Linked DNA regions of Homo sapiens. The protein of the gene in region 1 interacts with the protein of each later gene in a pairwise test. Each region holds a gene or a part of one and is shown on either strand. Other genes may lie near its edges.

What was found. Proteins that work in one complex are often made in the same cells at the same time.
Region 2: the proteins of LRIF1 (region 1) and TSEN15 interact in binary tests that used the Homo sapiens proteins (3 or more experiments, as listed by UniProt).

What each region holds. Positions count from the first base shown.
Region 1 is NC_000001.11:110,957,263-110,960,922, reverse strand, and holds part of LRIF1 (ligand-dependent nuclear receptor-interacting factor 1), read left to right. Parts: intron 1-3,660. UniProt on the Homo sapiens protein: Together with SMCHD1, involved in chromosome X inactivation in females by promoting the compaction of heterochromatin.
Region 2 is NC_000001.11:184,058,149-184,061,808, reverse strand, and holds part of TSEN15 (tRNA-splicing endonuclease subunit Sen15), read right to left. Parts: intron 3,649-3,660; exon of another isoform or gene 3,569-3,648; intron 1-3,568. UniProt on the Homo sapiens protein: Non-catalytic subunit of the tRNA-splicing endonuclease complex, a complex responsible for identification and cleavage of the splice sites in pre-tRNA. It cleaves pre-tRNA at the 5' and 3' splice sites to release the intron.

The DNA of each region.
Region 1 (3,660 bases):
AGACTGACACAGGTGTACATTTTAGATAACGTTGGCAGTCTGGATTTGAGGGTGAGTGATCTACATATAAGGATCCTATTTCAGTTGTCTTTTCAGAAATTCTGAGGGCCTGAACTAGCTGGTACAGTACAGTAGGGGTTGGATTCAAAGAAATATAGAAGGGAAAATAGACCGACTTCGTTAATGAATTGGCAGGAAGAAAGGGGGATCAATTATGATGCCAGTTTTCTGGGTGGATATTGGTAAATTAACTGAGATGAGGAACACATCAAGAAAGCAGTCAGATATTTGAATATGAAACTCAGGCTGAGTCAGAGCTGAGACTAGAGATTTGGGAAGCATCACCTTAGAGGTACTATAATGAAAGCCTGTGATTATATATCCTACAATAATAAGAATTAAGACATCATGTGATTGGCCATTGGCAGCTATCTTCCCATAACCATTTGTATTCAAATGGGGAGCTAAACTTAAGTGTTCTCAGCAGGGGGTTTGGTTTGACTGGAATGATGATGCTTCATTGTCAGTTCAGTATGCATTTTGTTGTGTACAGTGTTTTATTTTGTGATTTGAGTGTGTCTGTGTGTGTGTGAGGGAGAGACAGACACACATACTATAGAGTCTAAATGAAATCTGTCATTAATCTCTTAGTTTATACATTTGAATTTTTTGGACCCTGTTATAATGGGGTTATGCTAAAGTAAATATAGAAAGTAGATAAGCTTTCTCAAGGGGAGTGTGTAATTCTAAGTAAGTTATTAAATGTTTCCAAATCTCCATTTTCTCAAGTATAAAATGGGAATGGCAGTTCATAACTTTCTTGACTGTTTATTAGGATTAGAGTTAGTAACAACTGGTATATCTATCATGTACGCAATACATGGTACATATTATTGGATAGATAACTATGTTATGTACTTAGATATATTATGTTCTATATGTATATAATGTTATGTCATAGATAGTAAGAAAAGGATTTCCTAGCAGTTGAAAAAAATATATTTTGCAAAAATATCTATAAAATGTTCATCAGCCTTCAACATTTTTATTAGTCTATTTCTAATATATGAATGCCTCATATCAATATTAGAATAGTAAAAAATGTCAGAAGTTATATAACATTACCAATATGTTTAATGTGCCTTTTTATTAAATTTCTCATTCTTTTTTTTTTTTTTTTTTTTTTGAGATGGAGTCTCGCTCTGTCGCCAGGTGGAGTGCAGTGGCTCGCTGCAACCTCGACCTCCTGGGTTCAAGTGATTCTCCTGCCTCAGCCTCCCAAGTAGCTGGGACTACAGGCGTGTGCCACCACGCCCGGCTAATTTTTGTATTTTTAGTAGAGACGGGGTTTCACCATGTTGGCCAGGATGGTCTCGATCTCTTGACCTCATGATCCGCCCACCTCAGCCTCCCAAGGTGCTGGGATTACAAGCATGAGCCACTGCACCCGGCCATATTTCTCATTACATTTTTAAAAGACCTTATCTTACCTTATTCTCAGAGACCAATTGCATATTTTAATGGAAGATGATAACTGTTATGCTCCCAGGCAGTTATTTCATTTACTTCTCCTAGTAAGCTTTATTTTCCCCTATTTAACAAATGAAGAAACAGATTCAAAGAGGATAAGTACATTTTCTAGTCAACTTGTAATTATAAGAACCAGAATTAGTAGCCTGTAATCTTTCTAATATGTTCCTCTTTTCTCTTTTAAACTGTTAAACTGTATTATTTTTCAAATGTAGTTTCTCAGTTTGAACACCAGCTGGTTTAAAGTAATTACTTTAAAGTAATTAGGTGACCAGACTAGAAAATGGGATGCAGAATCTGGTTCTAGTTTTAGTTCTGACATTAGCCCGCAGAATATGATCTTTCAGAAAACAGAATCTTTGTAGGACTTTAATTATTTAATCTCTTCAATGGAAGGCTCCTTCTAGATATGAAAAACTGTATATTGATAGAAGGAGTACGAATTTCATCCTGAGTTATTACTTCTTAGCATTCTGCAGATTAATTTTTAGAACTCATTACATTTTGTTGCCAAGAAATCATGGATTTTTAAAAAAATTATACCTTGTAGGATTCAATTCAGCTAACATTATTGTGTGCAATTTCCAGTTTCTGAATTAGATGCGGAGTATATAGATATGAATAGGATAATCTACCCTGCAGGAATTTATGGTCTGTGGTAGATTATGTGACTCTCACTGATACACTGACATGGAAGAAGCTTAATTTTTCTTCCTTTTTTTTATTTTTTGGAGGTGAAATAGAGGAAAAGAGAGGGAAAAATTTAGTGATCAGATTGGAAAATAGCTCACACAGTATAGTTTTTTTTATAAAGCAGAAATATAGACATCATATAAAATACTATGCTTGGTATTGGAAGGATATTTGCAAAATAAATTATAAAGCCTCTCACCTTAAGGAGTTTCAGTCTTATTGAATGAAACAATACTCATTTTAAAAAATTAGCTAATAGATTAAAGTCAATAAAGAAAGCATTATATAATTTCCAACATTAATAGCACCAATGGGAGTACATTCGGGATTCCAAGTTGGAAGAAATTAAGCTGGAGTGACTGGCAGATATTTTATGGAAAAGATAGAATTGGAAACTAATTTTATATTGTTGGAGAAGAAAAATAATAATACTTTGAGTAAATAATGTAATATACATGGCATATTCCAGAATAGCAAAGAGATCTCTCTGGTAAGAGCAGAGATTTCACATTGAGAAGTTGTGGGTGGTATTGTTGTAGAGATTGGTTGGAGCTAGATTGTAGATGATTTTCGCGTCCAGCTGAATTGGCAATGATGAATACTAAAACTTTGAACAAGAGATAACAGGATGAAAACAATTTTAGTCTGCCAGAGATACATAATAGTCAATAGTGGCTGCAATCAGAAAAACAACATCAGCAAAATACTGTAGGGATGAGAATGATGAGTGCTAGACACATCTGATGAGGATCTCATGTAGATGGTGGAAGTCACAATGATGAAGAAAGAAAAGATGGATGAAATGGGTTAAAAAGAAAACCGTATAGACTTGATGATTCAGTATGCATTTATTAAATGTTTGCCTTTTGTAAGGACATATGCAAGGTTCTGTGGATGAATTTAAAGTAAATAAGAATGATGATAAAGACAAATCAGCAATGACTAGGTGATTTGAAACCTATATGATGTGGAAAATATTGGCGCTGCCATATGATTGAATGGTAGGATAGACTACTACTTTTCAATAGAGAGTAATTTTAACTTCGTAGATTTAAAGTGATGGGATTAAAATGTTTGGTAAGACATCACAAATATGGAACTGATGTCAATTCCAGTAGGGGACAGGAATAAAAGGATATAACTATGGGAGTCATTATTCCAAAGAAGATAGTTGAAAATAGTTGAAGCCGTGAGAATTGTTGCAGTCTTTTTTTTTTTTTTTTTTTTTTGAGACTGAGTCTTGCTTTGTCGCCCAGGCTGGAGTGCAGTGGCGCGATCTCAGCTCACTGCAAGCTCCGCCGCCTCCTCACTCCATTGTCCTACCTCAGCCTCCTGAGTAGCTGGGACTACAGGCGCTTGCTACCACGCCCGGCTAATTTTTTTTTTTTTTTTTTTTTTGTATTTTTAGTAGAGATGGGGTTTCACTGTGTTAGCCAG
Region 2 (3,660 bases), about 73 Mb from region 1:
TAAAGCCTGGGAAAGTAAGTGGGAAGCAGACACTAAAAACTGTTCAGGCATTCTTAGAATAGCACACAGATATAACATTAAACACTCCTTAGAACAATTACTTTTTAAGGAGGCAGAAAATACATATACACCATAAAATAAATAATAAACCATATAAATATACATGCCACTCTGCCACATAACAGTCAAGTGGTGACTGAAACAGTGGGACTATTTGTCATCACTAGGGAAATACTTTATAACTAAGTTGTAGTTAACTATGTAAATGACAGAGTTTGGTTCAGTTTTACAAACAACAGATTATAAAATTTGTCTCCTTCAATAAAAGAGACAGTTATCAGGCCTTATGTGCTATATGCTCTTTGTAAATAATAAGAAATTGTAGCTCCAGCAAACTGCCAACTCCTCTGGCTCTACAGCTGTGTATGCTACCCAACTCTCCTACTAATAAAAATGTTATTTAAGGTTTTTTGAGGACTACAAAGCATTTTTTAAAGCACTATATTCAAGCAGCTAAGACGCACAGTCTAAAATGGTGATTTACAACTGGTATGCTGAGGTTGGTTGTATAGTATGTGGCAAGTAATTTGTTTCTAACAATAGAGTAGTAAAGTTGGCAGGGTATTTTTAAATATAAAACTAATATTCCTGATAATATTATCAGTCTCACCAGTGATATTCCAACATTCTTTCTTGAGTGAGAGTCAAAAGACAAATTAGCACTAAGAGGTCCTGGGAACAATATATGGGCCAAAGCCCATTATTACTATAAAAGAAAGAATAATGGCTATTTTGGGGGGGAAGAAAGATTATGATTGGGATGGGGCACATTGAAAAGTTTGTGGGGTGCCTAGAAAAGTTCTATTTCTTGACTTAGTTATAATTACAAGAGTTCTAGACGTTTGCCTTATAACTCATTAATTTATACATTGGTATTGTGTGGTTTTCCGTATCTAGTTTCATTTACAATAAAATCTTTTTAAAAACCAATAAAGCAAGAGAAACTCTAATAGCTGTGAGGCTAACTGAGACCGTGGTACAGCTCACTTAATCTTTTATTATCTTTTGGAAAAAGTGGGGGTACAAATGAAAATATACTTTTAACCTCAGCTTTTTGTATGTAAAGTTAGGATAAAACAAACACCCCGTATACCACTAGGGATTTTGGTGCTGATTTAATGAAAGTCTACTTGTAAAAATATTTTGAAATACTTTGAAATTCTGTAACATTCTCTGCAAATGCAAAGTATTCTTAAAACCACATAGAATAAACAATAGTCTCACTTCCTTGCTTAAAGCCCTTCAATGACACCACCCATTTAGCAGTAATTTTCATAGTGTTCTTTGTGGAAACCTAAGACTCCACAGACATGCTTCAGGGGCAGGGCATCATGTACAGATATGCAGATTGTGCTTTGCACAACGGTGCCTGGCACAAGTGGATCTAAAATCTGGCCTTCATTGTTCGCCAAGCCTTGAACCTTAGTGAAGAGACATTTTCCTTTGCATGTCGAGAGGGAGCTCCTTTTCCTAAACTGTTCAGAGACTCTCTAAGTGCTAGCTGTAGTTCTGTTCAAAAGTTCCCCATTAAACAGTACCTTATTTCTGTCAAAAAATAAAAACAAACTGTCTGCAAGTCTTCTTCAAAGTTAAGACAACACAAACACATTTTATATTTGTAATTCCTTCATTTACAAACATATTTGAGCATTTGAGTTCCTCTTCTGTGAGTTGCCTGTTCATATTCTTTGCCCATGTTTCCCATTGGGATTTTTTTTCTGAAATCACAGAAGCTAATTCTAAATTAACCTGTCAGTTATGCACATGTTATAAATCTTCTCCCAGTCTGTGAAAACTTACACATTGCAAGTGCAAGTGTAAACTGGTAATAATCCTTTTGAAAACAATTTAGCAATAACCAGTAGAGATGAAGGGATAGGCCAGGCCTAGTGGCTCACACCTGTAATGCCAGAATTTTGGGAGGCCAAGGCGGGCAGATAACTTGAGGTCAGGAGTTCGAGACCAGCCTAGCCAATAAGGCAAAAACCTGTCTCTACTAAAACACAAAAAATTAGTTGGGCATGGTAGTGCATGCCTGTAATCCCAGCTACTTAGAACGCTGAAGCAGGAGAATCACTTGAACCCGGGAGGCGGAGACTGCAGTGTGCCGAGATTGTGCCACTGCACTCCAGCCTGAGTGACAGAGCCAGAATCCATCTCAAAAAAAAAGAAGGTATAAAGGTATACATGTCCCAGCTATTCTTAGGAAAACTCTCATACATGAGTACAAGGAGGTACTCACAAGGCTATTCATTAGAATACCATTAGTAATAGCAAAAAAGTAAAAACAATGATGGCCTTCATAATCTAAATAAACTTTCCCATCTAATTTTCCATCCTTTCCCTCTTTTCTCTGAAATTTTATTCATTCATTCATTCATTCATTTGCTGCCTTAAGGAATATTACTAGACACCTACTCTGACTAGACACCATGCTAGGTAGGCAATCATGCTTAATTACTTGCAGTTACCCTACTAAACCATGGTCTCTTACTGGCTAAAGAGACTTTTCCTGTCCTTCCTCTGGGTTTTGACATAATTTTGTACATATCCCTGTTAAACTACTTATCAGTACTCCATAATACTTGTTATTCAATTATCTAGCTACAAAATAAGTGAAGGCAGTCCCAAATCACACATTCAATTAAATATCTGAACAAAGGGCAATTCTGTTTTTTAAAATTCCATCCAACAATTACCAAAAAAAAAAAAAAAAGTATTTTCTAAGCGAATATTCAGTGCTAGAATACTACTTTCATGAGGATGTCATGAAAGTATTTGTTATCATGGTATCCCCAGCACCTAGATCATTGCCTGACACATAAGAGTCACTCAATAAATAATTGTTAAGACCAAAAAGCCCAAGCAATATTATCTGACAAATAATAATATTTAAAAGTGAAAACAGAATCGTTAATTTATGTAGATGTTTTATCACTGAATAAGTAAAAGCTGTTTTCCCTCTTAAATAAAAAGTATTTTTTCTTTCATGGTGAGTTGCCCTCACATCTTCCCACCAAATACTTTTAGGACATGTCCCAATGAATTTCTTTGCTATACAAGGTTATCAGAGACTCAACATCAATCATTTTCTTCTCTGTGTTACTAACACAGAAAAATTCCCACATTAACTATGAAAGGCTGGAATTGCAGCATTACTGTTAGATATATAACATTTTATATTATAAAATACACTAAAAGTAAAAATAGATAAAAGTATGCCTACTACCTAAAAGACTGCCCTGTTAAAGACTGAATAATGAAATCACACATACACACATATACACCCACACATTTCCATTTGTTAAAAAGTTATTTGCATAGTTTGAGTTGAGAAAATGTTATGCACTAAAAGGCATATAAATCTAGTATGTATCAGGCCTCATTTGTGCTACATTCTATATTAGTATTCTACTGTATAATATAGTTAAGAATATTTATATAAAAACAAGACATAAAGATTTAAGCTCTCTCAGTTATTAAATGCAACAGCATCAAAATGGCTTACCAAGTTATCATTCCAACTAATTCTACTTGAAGAAGAAAACAAGCTTTAGCCATTCAAGCTAGAAAAGCATTAATTACCACCTGGAAAATACT